4 linked regions of the Homo sapiens genome follow. The protein of the gene in region 3 purifies or fractionates together with the protein of the main gene of each other region. This does not show direct contact. Each region holds a gene or a part of one and is shown on either strand. Other genes may lie near its edges.

The links.
Region 1: the proteins of TKT (region 3) and EIF2AK4 purify together in Homo sapiens (affinity purification with mass spectrometry; 2 studies listed by BioGRID and IntAct, with this or other methods). This does not show direct contact.
Region 2: the proteins of TKT (region 3) and TRAPPC8 purify together in Homo sapiens (affinity purification with mass spectrometry; 2 studies listed by BioGRID and IntAct, with this or other methods). This does not show direct contact.
Region 4: the proteins of TKT (region 3) and GREB1 purify together in Homo sapiens (affinity purification with mass spectrometry; 2 studies listed by BioGRID and IntAct, with this or other methods). This does not show direct contact.

Annotation. Positions count from the first base shown.
Region 1 is NC_000015.10:39,972,115-39,979,139, forward strand, and holds part of EIF2AK4 (eIF-2-alpha kinase GCN2), read left to right. Parts: intron 1-793; coding exon 794-900; intron 901-1,477; coding exon 1,478-1,635; intron 1,636-4,299; coding exon 4,300-4,730; intron 4,731-5,963; coding exon 5,964-6,033; intron 6,034-7,025. UniProt on the Homo sapiens protein: Metabolic-stress sensing protein kinase that phosphorylates the alpha subunit of eukaryotic translation initiation factor 2 (EIF2S1/eIF-2-alpha) in response to low amino acid availability.
Region 2 is NC_000018.10:31,933,119-31,940,143, forward strand, and holds part of TRAPPC8 (trafficking protein particle complex subunit 8), read right to left. Parts: intron 3,334-7,025; exon of another isoform or gene 3,303-3,333; coding exon of another isoform or gene 3,221-3,302; intron 1-3,220. UniProt on the Homo sapiens protein: Plays a role in endoplasmic reticulum to Golgi apparatus trafficking at a very early stage. Maintains together with TBC1D14 the cycling pool of ATG9 required for initiation of autophagy. Involved in collagen secretion.
Region 3 is NC_000003.12:53,239,005-53,246,029, reverse strand, and holds part of TKT (transketolase), read left to right. Parts: intron 1-3,787; coding exon 3,788-3,905; intron 3,906-4,784; coding exon 4,785-4,898; intron 4,899-5,681; coding exon 5,682-5,779; intron 5,780-7,025. UniProt on the Homo sapiens protein: Catalyzes the transfer of a two-carbon ketol group from a ketose donor to an aldose acceptor, via a covalent intermediate with the cofactor thiamine pyrophosphate.
Region 4 is NC_000002.12:11,537,038-11,544,062, forward strand, and holds part of GREB1 (protein GREB1), read left to right. Parts: intron 1-2,781; exon of another isoform or gene 2,782-3,071; intron 3,072-3,567; exon of another isoform or gene 3,568-3,640; intron 3,641-5,648; exon of another isoform or gene 5,649-5,790; intron 5,791-7,025. UniProt on the Homo sapiens protein: May play a role in estrogen-stimulated cell proliferation. Acts as a regulator of hormone-dependent cancer growth in breast and prostate cancers.

The sequences.
Region 1 (7,025 bases), on a different chromosome or scaffold from region 3:
TTGGGAGGCCGAGACAGGCAGATTGTTTGAGCTCAGGAGTTGGAGACCAGCCTGGGCAGTGTGGTGAAACCCTATCTCTACAAAAAATATAAAAATTAGCCAGGCCTGGTGGTGCCTGCCTGTAGTCCCAGCTACTGAGATGGGAGGATTGCTTGAGCCCGGGAGGCAGAAGTTGGAATGAGCTGAGATCACACCACTGCACTGCAGCCTGGGCGATACGGCAAGACCCTATTTCAAAAAAAAAAAAAAAGCATAAACCAATTTTTAAAAAAAGTATGCAATAGAATATGGGACTTTAAAAAAGCCTTCCCTAAATGTTTCCAACTTGCTTCATCCTGTAATGAGCAGGCTTCATCTAAAGCTCGTCATACTGAGCCACTCTGCTGCACCAACTCTCTGATTTGCTTTGTCTTTCGAAAGCTTTATTTATAACCGGTTCCTGCAAAGGCTTAGTTTGGCATGACAAGGCATTAAACTGTTCATCGAGGTGAAAATTTATAGCCTACTTGTGCTACCTTAGACTTTTAAAAAATTGTTCCATGAGGGTAAGTCTTCTCATCTAGAGATGCCTTTTTTTGATTCGCCTCTTGTACCCAGCCTGTCGCATAGCATGTAAATCCTGCAGGAATGTTTATTAATTTAAATTCACCTATGAGAGTACATTCTGGTCTTTGAGTAACATGAATTCTATAATGTGTATCTTTAAAAAATAAACCCATAGTTAATGCCTTGGATTAACTAGTTTAGCACTGATTGTTTGTGATGCTAAGATTCTTCCTTCCCTCTCACCGAGATGTGTGTGCTTGGATGACAAGGAAAGATGGAGTCCCCAGCAGTTGTTGAAACACAGCTTTATAAATCCCCAGCCAAAAATGCCTCTAGTGGAACAAAGTCCTGAAGGTGAGTCTGTTACCTTTCTTTATTTGGTAACCTGTTTGACATTAAATTATTTTGAAAGTATACATAAACCAAAAACTGGAAGGGGCTGCATGTGTTATTTTATGTCTTTTATTCTGAACTAAATCCATTAGTTTGATGTGTGCCATGTGCATGGGACTGTTTTGCCACCCTGATTTTTCTAGTCTCTATTGATGGAATGAATGTCCATTGCTGTAGTCTCTTGTAGTGTTTAGTCACCCATAGTGCCATGTAACTAGATTTTTCCTGCTGCACCTGAGATTAAGGAACCTCGGTAGAGATTGGGATGGATCATGAGACCTGAGTTTTGGTTCTAGCTCTATAGTTAAGTCACTTATTCTATATAATCCCCCACCTGTAAACTTGGGCTAATTATATATTTCTGCCTACTTTAAGGAGGGCAAGGTGAGGAAAAGTTTTAAAAGGCCACTCAGGTAAGAGGTAATTTTTCAAACTACTGGTTGGAGCTCTTCTTCCAGGGCTTCCATCATTGTTGGCTATGTAGCTCTTCCTAAATTTCCAATGCCTCATGTGCCTCTTACTCCCTGTTTTATCTCAGATTCTGAAGGACAAGATTATGTTGAGACTGTTATTCCTAGCAACCGGCTACCCAGTGCTGCCTTCTTTAGTGAGACACAGAGACAGTTTTCCCGATACTTCATTGAGTTTGAAGAATTACAACTTCTTGGTAAAGGAGCTTTTGGAGCTGTCATCAAGGTGTGGTACAGAGTCATTCCCAGTCCCCTTTAGAGCTCCTTCTCTGTTCCATTTCCACAAAGACTCATGGACTTTACTTTTATTTTGGGAGTGGGGAGGGAAGTGAATATGGCTGTTGGATACTATGCTCATCCTCACCTTCCTGGAGTTAAAGGTTTTATTTAAGTTACGCTGGACACAGTTGAGAATTGTCCCACTCCTCTTTCCTTGCTTCATGTGGAGCATTAACATGAAACACACATGGTTATAACAGCACTTCAAGTGGAATCAAGACCTCCACAGAAAGAACATTTTTGTGTGCTTTGGTTCAGAAAGAACATTGTTCTTTTTTTCTCCTGTTTGCTGTTAGAGTTGCTGTAGATAAAAAGGTTCTAAGGTTAGAAGAGAGATGGACTTCAAACTGGGAGATGGCCCCAGCAGGTCTCGATGGCTTTTATTTTCCAGCTATTATTGGGACAGGAAAGTAGCGATGTATTATTAAGGTACACTGTTGTTGGGTCTTCCTTTCTTCGTTCTAGTCTATTTGGGTGACTTTTATTATTATCTGCCCCTTGTAGAAAGAGGTTTCAGCTGTTTTTATATAATAGAAGTATTTCTTTGTAAATTAGGAGACCCAGATTATTGTATTAAGTCCATATACAGTACATGTCATCTTTCACATATGAAGGTAACCCACCATCAACTGAGTATATTGTCTGTTAAGGATTCTGAGAGTATCATTAGGAAGCATTACTGTTACTGTAGAAAAACTTTTACACTAAAAAAGGAATTAAATTAGTTTTCCTGTGGTAAAAGACAGACAAGCAAGACAGATGTCCTGATCAGAAAGATCATAATTATGTCTAAGAGGAGGGGATGATTGAAGCGTATACTGTCCCTTTAACACAATATCATTTTGATCAAATCCTTTAACTTCATTCTATTTTAAATTCTTGAACGTAGAATAGTAACAAATTTCATCTCTTTACAAGTACTTAATAATGATAGGCAAGCTCATATAACAAAAACATCTGAGTAACTTAAGCCCCCACGGTTTCCAGTAGTTTCTCCCTGTGAGAATCCACAGCCCTCACCTCCTACCTCTGTGCTTCTGTGTCAGAGTAGGGCAGCCTGCCCAGTGATCTGGCATTCATTAGCAGTTGGACCCATTACTGTTTCTGCACCTTTTCACTTCAGTAAATGAATTCCTAGGGGTTTCCAGTATAGCAAGCTTTACTCCCAACCCAGTTCGTATATGATGTGTACTGAGACAGGAGATCGAAAGGCAATGCCAAGATCCCCACCTCCCGCCCTACACTGTCCTCTTCCCTATTAATGTGGCAGTAAAAGAACACAGGGCTATCATTTTTTGGAGCACCTGCCATATTTCAGATTGTGTGCCAGGTGATTTACAAACCTTGTCTTTAAATCTCAGGACATTCTTACGAGATGGGTATGATCCTCATTCCCTAGATGAGGGAACTGAAGCTCAGAGAAGGTTATGTCCTTTGCCTGAGATAAGGGAGATAAAACCAGCATTCAGACCCACCTCTGTTGTACTACAAAGTGTGTGTTCTTGTCACTATTTCCATACAAAAAAAGATAATCTGAAACTCAATTTTGTAGTACTTCCTTCTTATTCCCAGGACTTCACTTAGACTTTTATTAGTTTAATTGAAACTTGTGAGCCAAACAAGAGAATGATATTCTGTTTTGTGTTTTGTAATCAACTAATTTCTCCTGCCACCCATGGCCACATGGCATTTGCTTTTCTAGAGTATATCATCACCTCAGTTGACCTGCACGGATGTGACTACAAGGTTTCAGTGAATAAGACTCTGTAAAAGTTACTTCAGTCACCCCAATTACATAGTGAAACTGCCTGGCATAAGGATGCCTCTATGTAGGATGGGAGGACTTGCCTTTGCAACGTTTTCTTGCTTTCTTATTATTTTACTGTGTTGTTAATTGTATTGTTCTGGTTTCAGTATACATCATCTTAGGTATATAACAAAATCAATGGGCAGTGATTGTGTTAATAGCAATTGCTGTTATTGACTAAGCTAAGCACCTTTCTCTGTGAGGCCTTGATACAAGTGCTTTACAGTCACCATTTGGGGTAGTGGAAATGGTATAAATGCCATTTTAAAGATAAGAAAATTGAGTCTCAAGGAAATTAAGTAATTTTCCCAAGTTCACACGGCTTTAGAAATCAAGGAATTAACCTTTGTGTTCAGGTCTGTTAATATTTTTGGTGTTTAATTTGTTTTTAGTGACTTTAAGTGTAAAAAAAAATCAGAGAGAAACTAAAATCATCTGAAACTTTACACTGACTTTAGAAAATAATTTTTAATCTTAAAATCAAGACACTTAGAAATTTAGATAGCAGATACATTGGAAAAGCAGGGAGGTAACTGTCAGTAAAATTAATTATTAAAATGGAGATTATGTTTTCCCCAGGGTCTCCCAGCAAGCTAAATATATCTAGAGTCGGGTGGGCTGTTTTCTGAATTTTGTGGCAGTCAAAGCTTTCTTCAGTTTAAGAATTTCAGGCATGTGGTTCTTGACTGTAGCTGTGGGACTCATTTAGAACTTCACGCTTTCCTTGGGAGGGGATGGGGTGCGGTGCAAATGCCTGTTTGTGCAAGGCTCCGAGCGGCTGACCTTCCCCTGGCTGTGCCGCAGGTGCAGAACAAGTTGGACGGCTGCTGCTACGCAGTGAAGCGCATCCCCATCAACCCGGCCAGCCGGCAGTTCCGCAGGATCAAGGGCGAAGTGACACTGCTGTCACGGCTGCACCATGAGAACATTGTGCGCTACTACAACGCCTGGATCGAGCGGCACGAGCGGCCGGCGGGACCGGGGACGCCGCCCCCGGACTCCGGGCCCCTGGCCAAGGATGACCGAGCTGCACGCGGGCAGCCGGCGAGCGACACAGACGGCCTGGACAGCGTAGAGGCCGCCGCGCCGCCACCCATCCTCAGCAGCTCGGTGGAGTGGAGCACTTCGGGCGAGCGCTCGGCCAGTGCCCGTTTCCCCGCCACCGGCCCGGGCTCCAGCGATGACGAGGACGACGACGAGGACGAGCACGGTGGCGTCTTCTCCCAGTCCTTCCTGTAAGCGCACGGCGCGGACCAGCTGCCTCTGATGCGCCCCCTAGTTTCCTTTCTTTATTTTTTTTTCCTTTTTCCTTTCATTTCCTTCCTTCCTTCTTTCCTTCTTTTCTTTCTTTCCTTTTTTGAGATAGGGTCTTGCTCTGTCACCCAGGCTGGAGGTCAGTGGCGCGTCCTTGGCTGCAACATCCGCCTCCCGGGCCAGCGAATGCCCCCCAACATTAATCCCCACCAAGTCCAAGCCAGGGAAAAGGGGATTCATTTAGAAATCCAGACGTGTTGACCATGTTTAAAAACAAAAACAAAAACAAAACAAAACCACCACTTTTAGAGAGTAACCAAATGCAATCTAAAGGAGCGGTCCCCAGCGTTTTTAGGCACCAGGGACTGGTTTCATAGAAGACAATTTTTCCACAGACGGGTGTTAGGGAAATAGTTTCGGGATGAAACTGTTCCACCTTACATCATCAGGCATTAGAGTCTCATAATGACTGCTGAAAAAGCGCACAACCTGGATCCCTCGTGTGCACAGTTCACAATAGTGTTTGCGCTCCTATGAGAATCTAATGCGGCTGCTGATCTGACAGGAGGTGGAGCTCAGGCCTTAATGCTTGCTCACCTCCGGCTGTGCGGCCCTAACAGGCAGTGGACCTGTACCTGTCCATGGCCTGGAGGTTTGGGACCCCTAATCTAAAGGATTTTTTTTCCCGCTATTTTCAAAAGATCTCCAAAATCCAAGCCATGGAAAAAGGAAAATTCAATACCTCATCTTATACATTGAATAGAATTTCTCATAGGACATTCCTTTGGATAAGGGCTTGCAACCCTGTGAAACATTTAAGAACTAATTTGGAGTCTTGATACAGTGCCAACTGCAGCCCCCAAAGGTACCAAACCAATAATTATGATCCTAAATTTTATGCTTCTCAGAATCCACCCTGGATGTTTACTTTCATGATTTTGTTTTATTTTATCCAAGTGGATACAGTTTATGATTACTCTTCACTATTAAATTTTTTGAGGAAACTTAATCTGGCTAATTTTTATTAAATCAAGGGTTCTGTGTTTTGCATAATAGCAAGTACAAATCAGCACAGTGTAGAGTATACATTGATGCCTGTGGGCTCATGGTGTGATGTCTGTAGCCTCTTGTGCTTTCTAGTATTTAAAAATGTCCATGTTTATAATGATAATAGGGATTTCTGTTCCTTTAGTATTTCTGTTTCCCTTTTTCAGGCCTGCTTCAGATTCTGAAAGTGATATTATCTTTGACAATGAAGATGAGAACAGTAAAAGTCAGAATCAGGTATATATATGAATAGAAATTATATCATTTTATTCGTGATATAATTGACGTCTGATGTCATAAACCTTAGGTAAAGTATTAAGGCTTTAATCTGATATTCAGATATAGAAACCATAAATTTTAAAAGATGATTATTCATTTAAAATATATTCTACCTGTGTTTATTTATAGACCTTCTTTATTTATCCACATAGTAAAACATACCTCCTTTTAGAAGAGAGGAGTCAGTTGAGACACTGCATTTTTGTATGTGATGAAAACAGTTTTCTAAGGGTTTGGGAAACTTTATATGGTTGGGGATAAGAATTGAATGCAAATTAATGAACTAGATTTGCATTTATGGAGTTACCTCATCATGGAGTTACCTTGGTCTGTCCCACGTCAATTAATCTTGATTCCTTATTTTCATAGACCATCCTCTAGAACAGTGTTTTCACACTGTGTATCGTGATCCTATAATGCAGGGGTGTCCAAGCTTTTGTCTTCCCTTGGCTACACTGGTAGAAGAATTGTCTTGGGCCACACATAAAATATACTAACACTAATGATAGCTGATAAGCTAAACAAACAAAAAAATCACAAAAAATCTCATAATTTTTTTTTGAGATTGTGCTGTTTTTTTAGTTGTGTTTTCAATGGAGAAATACATCATCTGTTGACAAAATAGCTTTTGAAAAATACGAGTACAGATACTATAAAACAAAGCAAACTTCAGTCGTGAGACACTACATACATCATGTGAAAGCAACAGTCTGATCTCCAGGTTGTGAAAACTATAATTAAAAAGTCACTACACAGAAAAGATCCAAGTTTCCAGGTTGGCAAAACTTCGGTGCAGTTACATGAAACGTTTAACAAACTGATTTGTTTTCCCCAATGTGTAAACAAAATGACAAGACTAAGTCTGTGCCTGGTAATTTCAATGTAACTCTGAAGCTACACAAAACACACAGACACCTTATACACTTCACCTGTTAGTATGACCATCTTTT
Region 2 (7,025 bases), on a different chromosome or scaffold from region 3:
GTGAAACCCTGTCTCTACTAAAAACATAAAAAATTAGCCGGGCGTGGTGGTGGGCACCTATAGTCCCAGCTACTTGGGAGGCTGAAGCAGGAGAATGGTGTGAACCCGGCGGGCGGAGCTGGCAGTGAGCTGAGATCGTGCCACTGCACTCCAGCCTGGGCAACAGAGCGAGACTCCGTCTCAAAAAAAAAAAAAAAAAAAAGGAGTCCATTATAATGATTGAGGACCCAGCTTTTGGAGTTGGACCTTGATTTAAATCCCAACCCATTACTTATCAACTGGGTTACCCTGAACAACTTAACCCTTCTGTGCTTCAAATTCTTCATCTGCACATGTGATTACTATCTACTTCACGGGATCATTTTAGTGATTTAGGTGAACTATTGTTAGACAGTAATTGCAAAGCACTGAGCACCATGCTCAACAATACATAATGAAGGCGGTATAGCAGCAGCAGCAGATACAACATCACCTATTTCACCTGCACCATGGGTTATTATCACATACAAATAAGAGGCAACTTTGGGAAAGTGGTCTGGGTACCTACAAATAAAGAATGACACATTCTTCTCAATGGAAAATGCCTTATACCAAAATCAAGGCCTGCGTATATTTTAAATAAAGTTATATGCATACAAACTTTTCTACATTTCCTATGTGTTCTATTGATTTCTAACATTTTTTACTAAAAAAAAAGACTCAAAAACGTTTTTAAAATACTGTATGTGGTACAAATGTGTATTTATATTGTAAACATAAATATAGATACACAAAAAGTATACATGCAGCCGGGCATGGTGTCTCACTGTTGTAATCCCAGCACTTTTGGGAGGCTGAAGCGGGCGGAACACTTGAGGTCAGGAGTTCGAGACCAGCCTGGCCAACAAGGTGAAACCCCCATCTCTACTAAAATACAAAAATTAGCCAGGCATGGTGGCAAGCGCCTGTATTCCCAGCTATTTGGAAGGCTGAGGCAAGAGAATCACTTGAAACCAGGAGGCAGAAGTTGCAGTGAGCCAAGATTGCGCCACTGCACTCCAGCCTGGGCGACAGAGACTCCCTTTCAAAAAAAAAAAATGGTACATGCAAATTCTATGATAGTGGTTGCCTATAAAAGGAAGGAAAGAAAAGAGACTAAGATAAGGTAGAAAGAAAACTTCAACCTGGGAAGTCTGTCCTATAACGTTTGATTTTTTTTTTAAAAGAAAAGATAAAAAGCAAATATGATGGAGGGTTAATATTTGTTAGTTCTGGGTAGTGGGGAGGTGGATGTTTCTTGTATTATCTGCATTCTTCTATAACTGTTATGTTTTCTAACTTAAATAAACATACCAGCCTCTCTCCCTAAACTTCCCAGTCAGTCTAATTATGCAGCAGAGAAACAAACAAACAAACAAAAAAACTATGGTGCATTTCTGATATCCTTAGGAACATATTGGACAAGTATTTTCCTTAAAGTTGCTTCATAGCTGGGCGCAGTGGCTCACACCTGTAATCCCAGCACTTTGGTAGGTCAAGGCGGGCGGATCACCAGAGGTCAGGAGTTCAAGACCAGCCTGGCCAACGTGGTGAAACCCCGTCTCTACTAAAAATACAAAATTAGCCGGGCATGGTGGCACGTGCCTGTAATCCCAGCTACTCTGGAGGCTGAGGCAGGAGAATCGCTTGAACCCGGGAGGCAGAGGTTGCACTGAGCCGAGACCACACCATTGTACTCCAGCCTGGGCAATGAGAGCTGAGATCACACTACTGCACTCCAGCCTGGGCAATGAGAGCTGAGATCACACTACTGCACTCCAGCCTGCTGGGCAACAGAGAGAGGCTCCGTCTCATAAATAAATAAATAAATAAATAAATAAATAAATAAATAAAATGTATTTTGAAAATAATGACATCTTTTATGCTTTTACCCAGCATATAAAACTGTACAAAGAAAACAGGCTAGGCCGGGCGTGATGGCTCATGCCTGTAATCCCAACACTTTGAGAGGCCTTGGCGGGCGGATCACCTGAGGTTGGGAGTTCAAAACCAGCCTGACCAACATAGAGAAACCCCGTCTCTACTAAAAATACAAAATTAGCCAGGCGTGGTGGCGCATGCCTGTAATCCCAGCTACCAGGGAGGCTGAGGCAGAATTGCTTGAACCTTGGAAGTGGAGGTTGCAGTGAGCCGAGATTGCGCCACTGCACTCCAGCCTGGGCAACAAGAGCGAAACTCCACCTCAAAAACAAACAAACAAACAAACCAAAAAAAAAACAGGCTTTATAAATAAGTCTGCAATTACAGGCTGGAGCCGCTGCACCCAGTGGCTCAAGCCAGCTACTCGGCAGGCTGAGGCAGAACTGCTTGAACCTGGGAGGTGGAGGTTGCGGTGAGCCAAGATCGTGCCATTGCACTCCAGCCTGGGCAACAAGAGCGAAACTCCATCTTAAAAAAAAAAAAAAAAAAAAGCAGGCTTTATGAACAAGCCTGCGATTATAGGCTTGAGCCACTGGACCCACTGCACCCAGTGAGTGCCTCAAGCCTGTAATCTCAGCATTTTAGGAGGCTAAAGCAGGAGGATCACTTGCACCCAGGAATTCAAGACCAGCCTGGACAACAGAGGGAGAGAGACCCCATTTCTTTTTTTTTTTTTGAGACAGAGTCTCGCTCCGTCACCCAGGCTGGAGTGCAATTGCATGATTTCAACTCACTGCAACCTCCGCCTCCCAGGTTCAAGCAATTCCCCTGCCTCAGCCTCCCGAGTAGCTGGGATTACAGGCGCCCGCCACCACACCCGGCTAATTTTTTGTGTTTTTTTAGTAGAGACGAGGTTTCGCCATGTTGGCCACGCCGGTCTCAAACTCTTGACCTCATGATCCACCCACCTCGGCCTCCCAAAGTGCTGGGATTACAGGCGTGAGCCACCACACCTGGCACAAGACCCCATCTCTATAAAAAAATTTTTTTTAATTAGCTGGGTGTGATGGCACACACCTGTGTGCTACTCAGGAGGCTAAGGTAGGAGGATCTTGTATACTTTATACATATAAAACTTTACCATATTAAAAAACCCTCTGGCTGGGTGTAGTGGCTCAAGCCTGTAATCTAGGCACTTTGGGAGGCCGAGGCTGGCAGATCGCTTGAGTCCAAGAGTTCAAGAACAGCCTGGGAAACACAGCAAAACCCCATCTCTACAAAAAAAATTTTTTTTTTAATTAGCCAAATGTGTGATGCAAACCTGTAATCCCAGCTACCCAGGAGGCCAATGTGGAATGATCGCTTGAGCCCAGGAGGTCGAGGCTGCAGTGAACCATGATCATGCCCCCTGTATCCAGCCTAGGTGACAAAGTGAGACCCTGTCTCGAAAAATTAATAAAACAAAATGAAAACAAATTTCGAAAAACTGACTTGAATTTTATTCAGAGTTTGGTACTTCCACACCTTGGAGATTAATTACTTCATTATATAAACATGGTAGTTAAGATTGATGAAATATTTCCAACTAAAAGAAATTTAAGAGGCCAGACGCAGTGGCTCATGCCTGTAATCCAGCACTTTGGGAGGCCGAAGGCGGGTGGATCACTTGAGGTCGGGAGTTCGAGACTAGCCTGGCCAACATAGCAAAACCCTGTCTCTACTAACAACACGAAAATTAGCCAGGAGTGGTGGCCCGTGCCTGTAATGCCAGCTACTTAGGAGGCTGAGGCAGGAGAATTGCTTGAACCTGGGAGGCGGAGGTTGCAGTGAGCTAAGATTGTGCGACGGCACTGCAGTCTGGGTGACAGAGCAAGACTCCGTCTTTAAAAAAAAAAAAAAAAAAAAAAAAAAGGAGCCAGGCGCGGTGGCTCACGCCTGTAATCCCAACACTTTGGGAGGCCAAGGCGGGTGGATCACGAGGTCAGGAGATCAAGACCATCCTGGCTAACATGGTGAAATCCCGTCTCTACTAAAAAAACACAAAAAATTAGCCAGGCGTGGTGGTGGGCGCCTATAGTCCCAGCTACTCAGGAGTCTGAGGCAGGAGAATGGAGTGAACCCAGGAGGCGGAGCTTGCAGTGAGCTGAGACGCACCACTGCACTCCAGCCTGGGTGACAGAGCGAGACTCCGTCTCAAAAAATAAAAATAAAGGAAAAGGAAAGAAATTTAAGGCCGGTCGCAGTGGCTCGCGCCTGTAATCAAAGCACTTTGGGAATCCAAAGCGGGTAAATTGCTTGAGTCCATGAGTTTGAGACCGGCTGGGCAGCATGGCAAAACCCCATTTCTACAAAAACTACAAAAATTAGCCAGGTGTGGTGGTACATGCCCATAACCCCAGCTACTGGTGAGGCTGATGAGGGAGGATATTTTGAGCCAGAAGGTTGAGGCTATAGTGAGCCACGGAGTTCAAGACCAGCCTGGGCAACAGAGTGAGGCTCTGTCTCAAAAAAAAAACTGCTCACTTCAGCAGCACATATACTAAAATTGGAATGATACAGAGAAGATTAGCATAGCTCCTGCACAAGGATCACACAATGTTTTTCAAGAATTCAAAAAGAAAAGAAAAAGAAATTTAAGAAAACTGGAGATATTAAATAGCCTTCAAAAGTTATATCCTAGTCTACTTTTTTTTGTTGTTTTTTTGAGACAGAGTCTCGCTCTGTCACCCAGGCTGGAGTACAGTGGCAAAATCTTGGCTCACTGCAACCTTCACCTCTCGAGTTCAAGTGATTCTCCTGCCTCAGCCTCCCGAGCAGCTGGGACTACAAGCGCCCACCACCACACCAGGCTAATTTTGTACTTTCAGTAGAGATGGGGTTTCGCCACGTTAGCCACGCTGGTCTCAAACTCCTGACCTCAGGTTATCATCCAACTCAGCCTCCCAAAGTGCTGAGATTACAGGCCTAAGACACTGCACCTGGCCTACTTTTTAATCCCTTTAGTAACCTTAATTTCAAAATAAAATAATATATAACCCACATACTTCCAAGTTAGTGTTTAAGTGAAATTTTCTTAAAACTTACAGAACATCTAAATGATATATTGCAACATTGTTTAGAACTATCAAAGAACTATCACTAAGCAAAAACAAGGCTTAATTTTAATTTTTTGTTGTTTGCTTGATTAATTAATATTAATACCACGACTCTTTGAAACATGGCCAGTGGAAATTCTTTGAGTATTAGGATCTCAAAATTTGTGTCAAACAATGACTACATTAACTCTCAAACATACATCAAGCATAACAATCACAGAAAATACATATAATAAATTTAATTATATATTTTAATATAATTTAATTTTAACATAATTTAATACTCTTCAGGTTTTAAAATGTCTCTAAGGAACCTAAAATGGCTCTCCGTTGTGTAATACATCAAGTCTAAACTGTATTTTGAAGGCCCTACACACAAATAGTACTCAAATCTCTTCTACCAACCCTCTCTTTGGTATAGCTTTAAACCAAGTGTTTTCTACTAAAATCTAAAAATAAGTCTCCTGACAATACTTGGCACTGTACTTGACACTCCTTGAAAACTCAGCAGTCAAGGCAAAGTTCTACCCTAAGTAAAGGCATACCTACAGGCCAGAAATTGAGTCTTCTTTTTTAACATATTTTTTCTCCCTCTAAGGAAATGTTAGCTGGTTTTAGTCAGTTGTATTCTTAAATTACATTGCCTGAAATTATATTCTCATGCCTCACTTGCTAAAGAAAAGCTGTTGCCTAGCTCAGTGGCTCATGCCTGTAATCCCAGCACTTTGGGAGGCCAAGGCGGGCAGATCATGAGGTCAAGAGATAGAGACAATCCTGGCCAACATGGTGAAACCCCATCTCTACCAAAAATAGAAAAATTAGCTGAGCATGGTGGCACGAGCCTGTAGTCCCAGCTACTCGGGAGGCTGAGGCAGGAGAATCACTTGAACCCGGGAGGCGGAGCTTGCAGTGAGCCAAGATCTATCTCGCCGCTGCACTCCAGCCTGGTGACAGAGCGAGACTCCGTCTCAAAAAAAAAAAAAAAAAAAAAAGCTGTCTTTGAAGAATCCCCACACTTGAAACAAAAAGTAGCTGTTCTAGGTGGTAAAGAATTCTAAAATGTATTTATACCAGCAAAAAACTAAAACCAAGAAAAATTAAGTCCTCTTTGCCAAATTTCTAATGCTACTATCATAGTCCATGTTCATCTTGAAATGTAAAACTTGTATCTACTTATATCTATCCTTATAAACCACACAACTCACTAATCTCCAAAACTTTCAACTCATTAATGTCCAAATGTTTCAGACCCTCAAGAATCTACTCACATTTACCATTAGACATAAAATCGCAAATCCCTTTCCTAGAATTCAAGGTCCTCCCTTTATCTAAGCATCCTCTTACTACTCTGTACCCCAGTAAGAGTTTCCTCCCTGTTTCCCAACCATTCAGTCATAATTTAGACCTTTTGCCCATACCATTATAACCTCATACCACTCCTTCATAGGGAATGACTGCCCTCTTGCTTTCTACCAACTGTCTACCTGTCCACTAACGTCCAACTCATTATACTCCTTCACTAGGCTGGACGCAGTGGTCCGAGACGAGCCTGGGCAACAAGGAGAAACCCCATCTCTACAAAAAATTTAAAAATTAGCCAGGCATGATGGCATGTGCCTGTAGTCCCAGCTACTTGGGAGGCTGAGACAAGAGGATAGCTAGAACCTGGGAAGTTGAGGCTGCAGTGGGTGAGGGAGCTATGGTGATACAATTGCACTCCAGCCCTCCCAGCGTGGGTAACAGAGCAAGACCTTGTCTCAAAACAAAAAACAAACAAACAAAAAAACTCCTTCCCTAATCTTCCCCAGTCTCCTGAAGGAAATCAGAAGTGTACTGACAATGAGCCGCTATCACAGCACTGTCCAATACAGTAGGCAACAGCTGCATATGGCTACTGAGTACTTGAAATGTGACTAGTACAAATTGAGATGTTAAGTATAAAAGGCACACCAAATTTCAAAGACTAAGCAATAAAAAAGAATGTAAAATATCTCATGAATATTTTTCACATTGATTACACATTGAAATAGT
Region 3 (7,025 bases):
TCCCAGAGTGCTGGGATTACAGGTGTGAGCCACTGTGCCCGGCCTGTTTGTGTTTCCTGTAGAATGTGTGGAACATGTGAGTACATTTCACTGTATGTTCCTACTGGTGAAGTTGCTGGGAGTTAAGGGATGTGCATCTTCGGCTACTGATCTGGTTTATTTTTAATGCTTGAAAGATTACTTAGGTTCTCTATTTCTTCTTGAGTCAGTTTTGGTAAATTATTTTCATTATTGTTATTATTTTTTAGACAGAGTCTCACTCTGTTGCCCAGGCTGGAGTGCAGTAGCATGATCTCGGCTCATTGCAACCCACGCCTCCGGGGTTCAAGCTATTCTCCTGCCTCAGCCTCCCAAGTAGCTGGGATTATAGGCATGTGCCACCACGCCCGGCTAATTTTTGTATTTTTAGTAGAGACGGGGTTTCACCATGTTGGCCAGGCTGGTCTTTGAGCCGCTGACCTCAGGTGATCTGCCTGCCTTGGCCTCCCAAAGTGCTGGAATTACGGGTGTGAGCTACCGCGCCCAACCTGACATCCATTATCTCTTGAAGGAGCCCATCTGGAGGGTGAGGGAGCCTCTCTGGCCTTTTCTTGCATAGAAACCTGTGAGCAGGTGGAGTGAGCACTAAAGCGATGACAGAGATTCTCCTGGCCAGGGGACATCTGGAAGAATATATATTGTCCTGGAGGGGAGTGGAGAGGGGGCTTTTTTTTTTTTTTTTTTGAGATGGAGTGTTACTCTTGTTGCCAAGGCTGGAGTGCAATGGTGCAATCTTGGCTCACTGCAACCTCTGGCTCCCAGGTTCAAGTGATTCTCCTGCCTCAGCTTCCCGAGTAGCTGGGATTACAGGCGTCCACCACCACACCTGGCTAATTTTTTGGTATTTTTAGTAGAGATGGGGTTTTACCATATTGGCCAGGCTGGTCTTAAACTCCTGACCTCAGGTGATCCGCCTGCCTTGACCTCCCAAAGTGCTGGGATTACAGGTGTGAGCCACTGCCCCCAGCCTGGAGGGGGCTTTAAGAGACTTTCTTTGGGCCTAGCTCTAAGCTTGCCACACCACCGTCACAGGTTGAACTAATTGGGGTTGTAAGTGGACTGTTTTGGTCAAGGCAGGGTGTGTTAGTTTTTTTTTTTTTTTTTTGAACAGTCAAGTGTGCTTGTTAGCCCTGTTTATCACAGAGTCAGGGTATACAGTAAGTACCCTGTAGCCCCTCCACCGTGCTCCTCACCCCATCTCTCGCCAGTGTTCACCCAGAGTTGTCACACACAGCACCACGGGATGGGGCGTCCACCTGCAGTTGTGCAGGCAGTCTGGAATGGCAGGAAAAACTCTGGCCCTGAGGAGGCCACAGGCTTAAATGTATGCCTTTGGCCCCAAAGGCCCGCTAGGAAGTTGAGCTTGAAAGTAACTGTCTCCTGTGTGCTCAGTGCTTTACAGTGTGCAGAGCCCGGTCTCAATCCTTGGTGTATTTCTCCCCTCTTGCCTGCCTGTGGCCAGCAGGAGTGGGTGGTGTCACCATCCCTGCCTGTAGATAAGAGCTGCAGGTGCTGAGAGGGTTGGCAGTGGTGGCGGCTGCTAGAGACCTGGGTACTGTGCATGCTGCGTTATCTCACTGTGTCTCCCAGACACTCTCCCAAGTGAAGAAGCTGAGCCCCGGGTTGACGAAGCACTTGTTGAAGTCACGAAGCCCAAGTGGCACAGCTCACCTCCCCAACCCAGGATGCTCTGCCGAGGGAGAGCCCCAAAAGCTCTGGGGAAGAGTGCGGGGACACCTGGCTCCTAAGCGTTCTTCTTTTGTGCGTGTTTACTTGGTAGAAGTGAAGAGAGTGGCCGCAGCAGGCTGGATGCAGCCTTTGGAAGGAATGAAAGGCTGCAGGCCTAGCAAGGAAGGCTTAAAATCAGCTGCACGTTCTACTTCTCACCCTTGGTCACCTCGCAGCTGACCTTCCTCTCTCCACGTTTACTCTATCTGGGCCTGGGTGTGCTTCTGCCACACACAGAAAGAGCCTGTGCCACACCATTTCTCCCTGGAACCCCTTCTGGTGGCCAATGGGACTGTCACCCCGGGGTGTCGAGGTGGATGGGGCAGGTGGAGCCCTGCACTTACCGTCCTTGTTCTTCCCCGGAACAGTTTGGCCCAGTGTCCACCCACATCCTTCTCCCACCAAGGATCCCTCCTAATGGGACCATGGCTTTAGAAACAGGACCCCTCAGGGCCGGGGCTGCCCTTGGAGGTGGGAAGGACGAGAGGTCAGCCTGAGGTGACCTCCAGTTGAAGCTGGCCCTGGGAGCGTGGGATTAGGGTGGCCTCCAGTTGAAGCTGGCACTGGGAGCGTGGGATTAGGGTCCCTGCCAGGCAGAAAAGGGTTTCTCGTTTACCATGTCCTCCCCTCCCTCTTTCAGGTGTAGTGTCTTTTCCCATGACCGGGAGTTCATAGAAATAGTTAAGTATAAGATGATCGTGTGCGAGAATGTTGGTACTAAACCAGCATGGACAGTTTTCTGGATTTCTCTACTACTAACTTGTCTGCACTGAGCGTGACTCACCCCTAACCTGGTGGGAGCGCTGATTGGAGGGGCGGGAGGCTGGCGGCGTGAGCTCCAGATGGTGCATGTGCCCTTGGGCTTGGCATGCGGCGTGTCTTCGTGTGAAGGACCTCTGGGAGCAGCGAGAGGGCTGAGCTGAGCTGAGCTGAGCTGCATGTGGAGGGGCCCTCCCGGGAGGCCTGTGCCCTGAGGCTGAACTTTTAACAAAACCCTGGGACCAGAGGGCTTCAGGGCTGATCAGGACCTGCAGCGCTTCCTGCTGGGAAGCAGGAAGCAATAGAAAGTTTACGCTTTCTATTGCTCAGGAGCCGCTCAGTGATTAAAACAAGTCTAAAAAGCCAAGGGGACTCCGTGGCCCCACCACTCCCAGGCTGGAAGGCAGGTTCTTGCTTTGTCAGCCCTTCCTCAGCCCTTGTCCATAGGCAGAAGGGGTTTTTATTAATACATGATTGTAGCCTTGTAGGAGATGAGATTATGTGTCTTGCTTTGAAAATTCTACACAAAAGCCTGTTTCCTAGTTGCTACAGCAGCCCTCAAACTGCCCATTTCTAAAGCTTTCAAGTAGCCCAGTGATGCAATTGGAAAGCCCAAGGCCCAGTTTTTCAGGCTACCACACCCCATGCGTGGAGGCTGCTGGGAGGTCTGTGGTAACTCCATGAGCCTCAGTCCCTTCCTCCCTGCCCCATGGGCTCAGAGGCCCAGCACCCCTGGGTGCTGAGAGGGCAGGGTGCCCTTCACAAGTGGGCAGTGTCCGGGCAGTCCTGTCAGGATGTGGGGTCAGTCGTAGGAATGCCGGCACCCCTTGGCTGCTGAGTCCTTAGACTCCTGGGGGCCACTAGGTGGGAACTGGGTTCTACCTGACAGCAGCTGCCCCCAGCCGCAGTGCTAGCCTTGGGCTGAGTCTTCTGTGCTAGATCTCTCCTGGGCCCCTCCTTCCTTCTTACTCAAGTCCAACCCCAGATATTTTCAGTTGCCGTGATTCTGAGGATCTGATGCCCCTGGAAAGGTACAACAGTCCCCAGCACCCACTAGCTGGCCCAGGCCCCAAACTGCCAGGAGTGGCCTTCTTGAGACCATGTGTCACCCTCCCAGGGAACAAGAGCTCGTGGCTGTCTGATAAGCCAGGCCTGTGTGACTCCTCAGGACATGCACCCCCAGGTCCCTGTACAGCTGAGCACAATAGCTCAGGAGTGCAGGGCCATGATGCCTGTGTCTGTCTTCTCTCCTGGGCCACAGCCACCCCACGTCATGCTGCAGCGCCGCAGAGATCATGGCTGTCCTCTTTTTCCACACCATGCGCTACAAGTCCCAGGACCCCCGGAATCCGCACAATGACCGCTTTGTGCTCTCCAAGGTAAGAGCCCAGCTGCCCACTGCCAGCCACACCTTGCCTGGGACTAGGGTCACACGGGCCCTGGAATGGTGAGTGGTCTTTGAGGAGACCTGGCTGGGCCCACCTCTCCCAGGTGCCTTCTCCCTGCTCGTCCTGGCCTCTCCCTCAGTGTCCTGCTCTGTGCTGACCCAGCTGGCTAAGGAATACAGGACTGAATTGATGGGTTGCTCTGCCATGGAGCCCAGGTACATAAACAACGCTTTAACTCAAAGAAATGGAGTAGGGGACTACGGAAACATCTGTTGTGTGTTCTGCCCAGTCTGGGTGTTGACAGGCAGGACTGGCATCTCGGTCTGGGTTGTGGCTCCCTACCTGCTCTATCTGTGTTGTGCCAGCGCTCCCGAGGCCACGGCTTGCCCCCTCGGGGTGGTGGTGTGCTGTAGCAGGGTTTTGGATGGGGACCCCCTGACCCCCCCCTTCTGGGTGGAATCACAGCCACAGATCCCTGAAATCCACCTGTGCTCAGGCCTGCCTCCGTGGCGTTTGGTCTCTCGGGCAGGCTTTAGAGCTTAGAAGTCTGTCCAAGTTGTTCCCATGCCACAAACCAGGGATTAGGGCAGCCGGCTGCCTGCTGGGGTTTTGGCTTCGTCCAGCCTCACAGCTGTGCCCCCTGCACCTGTCTTAGTGCCTGCCTGGCCTTGGCAGTGGGAACTTTGGGCTGAAAACCAAGAGGCTGAAGAGGGCTGAAAGGGGAGAAGTGGCCTTCACTTGCTTCCTCCCCTGAAATGGATGCTGCAGTTGGCCGGCTCGGCCGGGCCCCAGGGGTCAGTGTGAAGTAGGCACAGCCCGAAGTAGAACCGCTCCCCACCTGACCTCACCCCACCATCCATCTCCCGGCAGGGCCATGCAGCTCCCATCCTCTACGCGGTCTGGGCTGAAGCTGGTTTCCTGGCCGAGGCGGAGCTGCTGAACCTGAGGAAGATCAGCTCCGACTTGGACGGGCACCCGGTCCCGGTAAGTGCTCCTGCCAGAGCCTCCCATGCCTCTGCCTCCACTTCCTATTTCCCAGACATGTGGGACGGGGGTAGGGGGTGCCCACTGAGAAGCCAAAGGTGTTGAAAGGCGGAGGAGGGCATTGAGTTGAGGAAGGAAAGAAGCAGGTGTTTTGGGGACACGTATTCAACCCAAGCTGGTGCCAAAGGGGAAGGCCTTCTGAGGCCTCAGCCAGGGTGCTCTGGGATGACTTCAGGGAGGGCCTCTCCCCAAGCTACCCTTCTGCACTGGGCCTCCTTGGCTAGGTAGCTACAGCTTGGGAAGAGAGGGGACTCGATAAGGGAGTGGCTGCAGGATGCTGGCGAAACCCTGGGGAAGGGACCCAGTTTGTTCCTTGGGGTGCCATCTGGCATCCCTGCAAACGTTAAGACTTCATGGATTACCACAAAAACTGTCACATGGTCTGGGTCCCCACGAGGGGCAAATGTTCTGTCAATTTTTTCATGATTCTCTCTCCCAGCACTTTGTGAAGTGGGTGATGTGGGAACTGAGGCTCACAGAGGTTCAGTCCCTTGCCTGAGGCCTGAGGCCACATAGCTGGCTAGTGGGCAGGGCTGGGATTTGAACCTATAATTATAATTAGTTCATTAGGAGAAGAAGTCACATGCTAGGTAGAGGCCATCCTGGGGCCTGACCTTCTGCAGAGGAAGGGCTTGCTGGGCTGGGTGGGAGTGTGGCTCCCTAGGCGGGTGAGACCAGGATCCCTTCTCCTCTCAGATTAACGGTGGCCTTCTGTTATGACAGAAACAAGCTTTCACCGACGTGGCCACTGGCTCCCTGGGCCAGGGCCTCGGGGCCGCTTGTGGGATGGCCTACACCGGCAAATACTTCGACAAGGCCAGGTAACACACCTACTCCCCACCCCCAACCTGGGTAGTTTTGGGGAGTGGTCCTTGGGTGACCCACCCTTCACCATCGCCCCCAGACTCTTCCTCTTTCCTGGCTAGGGCAGAGTAATACATATGCGTGGCCTCTTTTGCTCTTTAAACATCCGCTATGGCTGGTGCCATGACCGGCCCCCTTTACAAATGAGGAAACACTCAGGAGTTAAGGGACCTGCCCTGGGTCCCTCAGCAGTGACTGGCAGGGCCAGGTTTGCACAGAGTGCGTGCTCTCAATCATGTGCTCTTCAGCCAGAGTGCTTAGGCTGAGGACTTCCTGTTTTGCCCCCAGCCCTGTGCCCAGACCCCAGAAGTCTCAGAAAGACCCACCCCCAGGCCCCTGTCTGACTAGGCACCAGGAGCCCAGGCCTGAGCCACTTGCCTTTATCTTGGTAAAGGGGAGGGTTGTATGTTCTGAGGGGTTCTGGGATACCTGTAAGCCACCTCCTATCAGCAGGGAAGAAACAAACATTTGAGAGATTGAGCCTTCAGAGGGTGGGTGATGAGCCTGACCAGAAAGGTGTGCTGCTCTAGCGCCCACCAGGTGATTTGTAGGAACGGCCCCCCAGGAAGGTTCTAGCCATAAGTTTGTCTGCGGTGGTCAGATATGGCCTGGGGGGATGAGGTTGTAAACTGTTAAGAATAATGGCTGGCTGAGGGAAGGATTGCTTGAGGCCAGGAGTTCCAGACCAGCCTAGGCAACAGAGCAAGACTCTCTCTACAAAAAATACAAAACTTAGCCAGGCATGGTGGTACACACCTGTAGTCCCAGCTACATAGGAGGCTGAGGTGGGAGGATCACTTGAGCCTAGGGCTTCAAGATTATAGCTATACATGATTGAGCCACTGCACCCTAGCCTGGGCTACAGAGCGAGACTCTGCCTCTTTAAAAAAAAAATTATTCTTTTTTTTAAAGAATAATCACTGTATTAGTCTGTTTCCACACTGCTGATAAAGGCATACCCAAGTCTGGGGAAGAAAAAGAGGTCTAATGGACTTACAGTTCCACATGGCTAGGGAGGCCTCACAGTCATGCTGGAAGGTAAGGAGGAACAAGTCACATCTTATGTGGAAGGCGCAGGCAAAGAGAGAGTTTGTGCAGGGAAACTCCCGTTTTTAAAACCATCAGATCTTGTGAGACTTATTCACCATCACGAGAACAGCATGGGGAAGACCTGTCCCCATGATTCAGTTATCTCCTGCTGGG
Region 4 (7,025 bases), on a different chromosome or scaffold from region 3:
TTGCAACCTCCTCCTCCTGGGTTCAAGAGATTCTCCTGCCTCATCCTCCCAAGTAACTGAGATTACAGGCACCCGCCACCGCGCCTGGCTGATTTTTGCATTTTTTAGTAGACATGGGGTTTCACCATGTTGGCTAGGCTGGGATTGAACTCCTGACCACAGGTGATTTGCCTGCCTTGGCTTCCCAAAGTCCTGGGATAACAGTCGTGAGCCACCGCGCCGGCCGACATTTTCTTTCAGTCCCTTTTACACATTTAATTTATTTATTCACAGGTGGCAAGCTTCATATTGGTAAGAATTGTTACTATTATCCTGGCATGTATAATATTATATATGTGCCAGGTACCATGCTAAGCACCCTATACATACTAATTATTAAATCCACACAACTCTAAGAAGCAAGTACTTTTCTCCCATTTTTCAGTTGGGGAAACTGAGGCACATAAAGGTTAAGTAACTTGCTCAAGGTCTAATATCCAGTAAGTGAAGATTCAAACCCAAACCTGGCTCCAGAGCCCATCATCTTAAAAACTCTACTGCTTAAACTCTCTTCCCTTCTCTAAAAATATAATAAATAGTATATACTATTTTAACATGTTATAAGTTTATATATTATATAAAAATATAAAAATATTTTATATATTATATATTACATAAATATCATATATTAGATAAATATATGATATTTATATAATATATAATAATATATAAATTTTATATATTTATAAATAAAATATACTATTTTAACATAAAATACATACATGTATTTTAATATATATGATCTCATATATAAGAATTTAAAATTATCCGCAGGATCTACCTATCTTTCTATACAGTAAATGTATCTTGCTGAATGTTGTATCCTAAGTGTGTCTGCATCATTGACAAACTCTTCATGCACATAGCTTTTATGCATTTATTGCAGGCTGTGTTAAGTATGCATTTTTTGCTGGGTATTTTGTTAGTTTCCAGTTTCCCACCGTCACACACGGTGCCCTGAGTGGCAGAAGGCACGGGGCACTCCACGTACAGACCGCGTACAGTGTGCCTCCCCAACGAGTAAAGCCCTGGCACTAGGGATGCTTCAGAGCTGCAGATGCTCGCTCGGGCAGAACCTCCAGCGGGTGCCACCCCTGCCTGGCGATGAAGGTGCAGGGATGGGTGGGGTCTCCACTGCCCTTTCTAGGGAGGCACTGCCCAGCCTGGGAACGAAGAAGCCCACCACACAAGTTCTACCCTTTAGCGCCTGGCAATTTTGGGGACTGAGCCCAGGAACAGCTGGGAACTCTCCTCCCTGACTGGGGCACCAAGAGGAGTAATCCACCTCTTTAACCTTTTTTTACAAAAGATAAATGACCTTGAACCCTCTGGGTCATATTCAAGTCACTTTTGCAGGAAGTTAGTGATCCTAGCAAGAAGAGAAAAAGCAAAGTTAAAGGTATTTGCACAATTGGAGTGGGCTCTCATGATTTATTTTCTTTCCTTTTTGAATTAGGATTTGATCAGGAGTCCTGGATTCGTAAGAGTCAATTGCAACAGGGATGTAAAGAGAGCTCTGGACAGGAGCTTGTGTTTCTTTCTTTCTTTCTTTCTTTCTTTCTTTCTTTCTTTCTTTCTTTCTTTCTTTCTTTCTTTCTTTCTTTCTTTCTTTCCTTCCTCCCTCCCTCCCTCCCTTCCTCCCTCCCCCTCTCTCTCACTTTCCCTTCCTTCTTTCCTTCCTTTCTTCCTTCCTTCCTTCCCGTCTTCCTTCCTTCCTTCCCTTCTTTACTTCCTTCCTTCCTCCCTCCCTTCCTCCCTCCCTCCATCCCTTCCTTCCTTCCTCCCTCCGTCCCTCCCTTTTTCCCTCCCTCTCTTTCTTTTCCTTCCTTCCTTCCCCCTCCCCTCCCCTCGTGTCCCCTCCCCTCCCCTCGTGTCCCCTCCCCTCCTCTCCCCTCCCTTCCCCTCCTCTCCTCTCTTCTCCTCCTTTCTCCCTTCTCCTCCCTTCTCTTCTCTTCTCTTCTCTTCTCTTCTCTTCTCTTCTCTTCTCTTCTCTTATGATAGGGTCTCACTTTGTCATCCAGGCTGGAGTGCAGTGGTGCGATCACAGCTCACTGCACCCTCTGCCTCCTGGGCTCAAGCGATCCTCCCACCTGAACCTTCTAAGTAGCTGGGACTTCAGGTGTGCACCACCACAGCCAGTTAATTTTTATTTTTTGTAGAGATGTGGTCTCATTATGTTGCCCAGGCTGGTTTCCCACTCCTGGGCTCAAGCAATCCTCCCATCTCGGCCTCCCACAGTGCTGGGATTACAGGTGTGAACCATTGTGCCCAGCCAATAGCTGGTGTTTTCTTGAAGATTTCCTGGGCCTCTCCAGGGGGTTTTTGTTGTTGGGGCATGTTCCATGGTATTCACAGCAGAGTTGTTTGAAGGGGCACGTGCTCGCTTATGTGGCTTAGGTCCACGCTACCTGTAGTCCTTCGGAGGCAAGCCAGGCTGCCAGCTGACTGTCTTCCACCACAAAGCCTGTGTTCTTCTCCTGACCCTTTGTTCTTTGCACAGCGTACTGTGGCTCCAGTCCAAGTACACAAACTTCCATGTAGTTTAAAAAGAATCAGTTTAACTGTTGGTGGTTAGACAGATTGGTATGTACCTGTGTGGAGAGCACTGTGACCCAGCAAAACACTTCAGGGCTAAGAAGACACGAAACGGTGGCATTTGCCATCTGACCCGGCAGGCGCTGGGGCAGATGAAGCTCCAGTTGGAAGGGCTACTGCTGAATTTTTTTTTTTTTTTTTTTTTTGGTTGTTGTTGTAGCTCTGGGAGCAGATACTAGCTCTGAAACTTTTCCCCTGGCTGGCTTGGCTGCCTCTCCCTGCCGGGCAGGGGCCAGGAAGCCTGGGTGTCAGGCAGACCCGAGCCAGGCTCTGCACAGCAGGGCATTACGCGCCCCACGCATCCTCTTCCATCCCCAGGCACAGATCAAAGGCGCAGCCCAGGAGGCGGGAGCCCCTGCACACTTTCCACCTCTGCTGGGCTTAGCCTCTTGGCTGGTTGGTCTGTGGAGTGCCTGAAGTGACCAGCTTTTTGTAAGGTACGGTTTATTTGACTTTGCAAGCGAGCACCTGCTTTGGGGGTTGGAGAGGTTTGTGTTGACTTACGAAGACAGCTGTGGCCTGTGTTCAGCAGAATAATGGCAAAGCATTGGCCCTTCTAATAAGGTGCAGGGGAGCAGTAAACCGAGACAAGTCCACTTAATGAACGGGTGTCCTTATTTTTATTGTTTGAAATGATATCCAAAGGGATTGCAGATAATTAGTTTGTGTTCTTATGAATGATAGGCTAAGGAGATTCAAAACACTGCTTGGGCCCTGCCTGGTTGGTTCCAGAGAGAAGGTTTTCAGTGGTTTCTGCTTCCCTGGCTTTATTCTGAAGGTCCTTCTCTTCCATTCAGTTCTTACTGCAATCGGAGGGGACATAGCTGATGGCTCTGTAGTTCCATTTGAGAGCACTTAAAGATATTCTCCAAAGAAACACTCTCTGACATTCTGTGCACAGATGTAGAGCAGCTCGGGGCTGAGCTGTGGCTGTGGGCCAGGCAGTCTGAGTTGGAGAGACAAACAAATTAGACACCAGTCGCCTCTCAGCCCAGCTTTTCTCCCTTCAGTAACACCTGTGGAGTTTATGAGTTCCTCTAGGGAAAATCGGAGAAATCTACATGAGAATGATGTCTTGTTTCCTGCTGGGAGGACCGTCAAAGAGTTTATAGGAGACCATCCTGCAGTCTCAATGCGTTTATTGCCGTGTCATATATTGGGGGCTGACTATTGCCACATTACTGGAGCACCCCATTCCCATCCTTCCTCAGCTGTTGAAAGTGAGACAGGTTGAGGACGCAGTCCGGAGAGTGTTGCTTTTTTCAAGTCTTGTTTTCTCAAACTTTGGACTCACCAGAAGTAAGTCACCATGCTTCTGTGTTGGCTGGGGAATTCTTCCAGTTAGAATTTAGTTGTAGGGAAGTTAGAAGAGGAGGGAGCATGGGTCAGTGATGTCTGGAATTTGGGGTGTTCTAGTGAGATTTGGGGTGGGGTCATGTCCCTGTGGCTGGCCAGGGTAGTGGCCCTGAAGGGCCAGGTTGGCAGGGCTTCTAGGAGAAGGCCATCTCCCAGAAGGAGATGGAACCCCAGGTGGGAGGGTATGTGGTGTGTTTTGGATGTGATTCAGAATGGAGGCAGTGAGGCAGAAAGGGAAGGGAAAGGGAGGCCGGGCAGGAAGCCAGGGTTGGGGTTTTGCTCTTATAGACTTGACTCCAGACCATGGCCCTTCCTTCTCTGCCATGGATCCTTCTGGAGGAGAGGGTATCACACCGCTTGAGGCTCTGTGCACAGGCGGGTTCTGTGGGCATCCGCGAGTGAGTGGATGGCAAGTGAGAGGGGGGCCATGGGGATCGGAACACTTGGCATCGTGACCTCTCAGCTCTCTCTTCAGACCCCCATGCACTACTCTTCTCTATGACAGTGAGACCACCACTGCCTCCGACTCTTTCCAAAGCCCGAGGTCAGCTAGGCTCCTCGTGCTACTCACCCTGCACAGAGGCAGTCTTTAGTCCTCTTTGAGTCTTGGTCTATTGCAGTATCCTCCTAGAAGCCTTCCTTAGGAAGCCGCAGGAATCTCAAACACAGCCTCATCAGCCCTGCCTAACTCCTTTGGTGGCTTGACGTGGTTAATTTCAAACACCTTAGCAGGGCTTAGGCTGAACGGGCCCCTCGTTGCCCTCCTACCCCCTGTCCCTGCATACACCTCATGCTGGAAGGACCTGTGTTGCCCAGGCACACAATAGGTGTCTCGCCCTTGGGTCAAGCCGATGCCTTGTATACGTTCTGCCTGGAAAGCCCCTTCTTTTCAGACAGCAAACCTGTACTCAACTTTGATGACTGAGCCTTCCATGAGGCCCGCCAAGACTGACCTGATAGAATTTTCCATTCCCTTCTCTGTTTCCCTCCAGGCCTTCTTGCCCCCATCTCTTCTATTTTGCATTACACTGCTGACCTGCACTTCCTGTGTCTCGGTGAGGTTCTTCAGGGCAGGAACTGTGTCTAGTTCAGTTTCACCCTTAGCAACAAGTGGTAATGAAATATTTCTGCCAAGGATCCAATTCAGATTATGTAAGCATTTACCTTTGTTTAAGGCAAAATCCTGATTCTGGAAGAGGAAAGTTCTTTGCTTCTCACAGGGCAGGCATAGAACAGGCCAGAAGCTGTCCATGTGTGGCTTGGGAGAGACCTGGCTATCTGTACTTGAGCCCTGAGACCCCGAAGGCCCCCGGCTGCATCTGCTCTTGGAGCTTGGGGTGGCCTGGGTGGTGGTCGAGTAGGATCTGCAGCGTGGGATCATCGGCAGAGTCAATGCCATTCCCTTGCAGATCCACTCTCCCGTAAGAAACTGTTCTGGGCTCTGAGAGGAACGAGGGGAAGAGGGGAGATGGGTGAGCTTCCTTGCTGCATTTAGCAACTCAGTCCCTGGGGGAGGTGTAGACACTGACACACTCCCTGTGGCCCCAGGGAGAACAAACCCAGAGCCCAGTGAGGGTGCAGTATGAGCAAAGTGCTGGGGCGGGGGGAGGGCAGAAGAGGGAGCAGTTGATTTTGGCTTAAGAGTAAACTGAAGAGAGAACAGACACGGGGCGGCTGAGCAGCAGTGTGTTCATGGAGAAAGAATCAAAGCGCACATCTTGTACTTTGATGCCCATAGGAAGGGCTCTCCTCTGGCCCCTCTGGCTTTGTTTGGAGCAGAAAACAACAAAGTGAGTTCAGGTAATACCTGGGGCAGTGGGAATTAGCTAATTAGTTTTCTGGAATTCTAACAGCGGTGGCATCCCAGGGGCCTAAATTAAAGCCGCAGATGTGTTTATTTGGTACACCTGGGGCTTTAAATGCTAATCCAAATGCTTTCAGACAGGACCTCAGTCTATTTCTTGACAATCCTCTCTGTAACCTTAAGCATGTGGTCTTCCTTTTCCTCGTCTACTGTCTCTTTTTAGGGGTTGTTTTCTGGGGACCTGCAGTGTTCCGGGCACCATGGGAAGTAAAGAGGTGACTGGAATAGTCCCTGCTGTCAAAGCCCTTCAAGTTTAGTTGGGAAGCTGGCAGAAGGGGGGATAAGAGACTAAATGATATATTATCTGCTCAGAGAGGCACGTTTCAATAGGTGTACTCCTAAGGAAGCCAGAAGTTTAATTAATTCCATTGGATAAACTACTCTGTGATAGTGAATAAAATTAAGGCAAGCTTAAGACTTAAAATTAAGTCTTTAGTTAACATCTAGAAATTAGAATTATGGGCAGTTAATTCCAATTTTAGAGAGGAAACTGGAACTTATTAACATCTATTTTATGCCAACTGCCCTGCATGTTAATTTAGTCCTCACTACAGCCGTGTAAGGTGGTTCTTAGTATCTCCATTTTATAAAAGAGGAAATGGAGGTTCAGAGAAGTTAGGTAACTTGCCCAAGGTCACACAGCTTGAAAGCAGCATAACCATGAATCAAGCCCCTGGTGGTCTTATTGAAAAGTGAATGCTTTTACCACTATAGCAGACAGATTATGAACACTTTGCAAAGCCCAAGTTTGAGAATTTTTTTGACATTGGTGAAGTTCAATGATAATGAGTTTATTATCTCATAACTTGAAGAGACCTGTAAGACCTTCTCTATGAGTCCTGCTGGTTTTGATCTAGCTGGATGTTGCAACTGGGAACCCCAGAGCGCTGTGTTCTCAGCACCTCGTGGGCCTCGGTGTCCATGTTCGTGTGCAGGGGTGTTGAACCCCTGATGTGTGCTGCTGGGTGGTGTGAAGAAATGGGTATTGACGCCCGTCTGTGAATGGACCGGGGAGTGGGGAGGAGTTGGGTCTGAAGGGTAGGCAGTACACGGAAGCTGTGGCTTTATTTTTCTGAGCAAAATGATGAGTGTACAGCACCCAGGAGCACCCAGAGCCAAGTGTTATCTTAGGAAGTGAGTTCCAGCCCATTCTGGGACTCAGCGCTGTTGT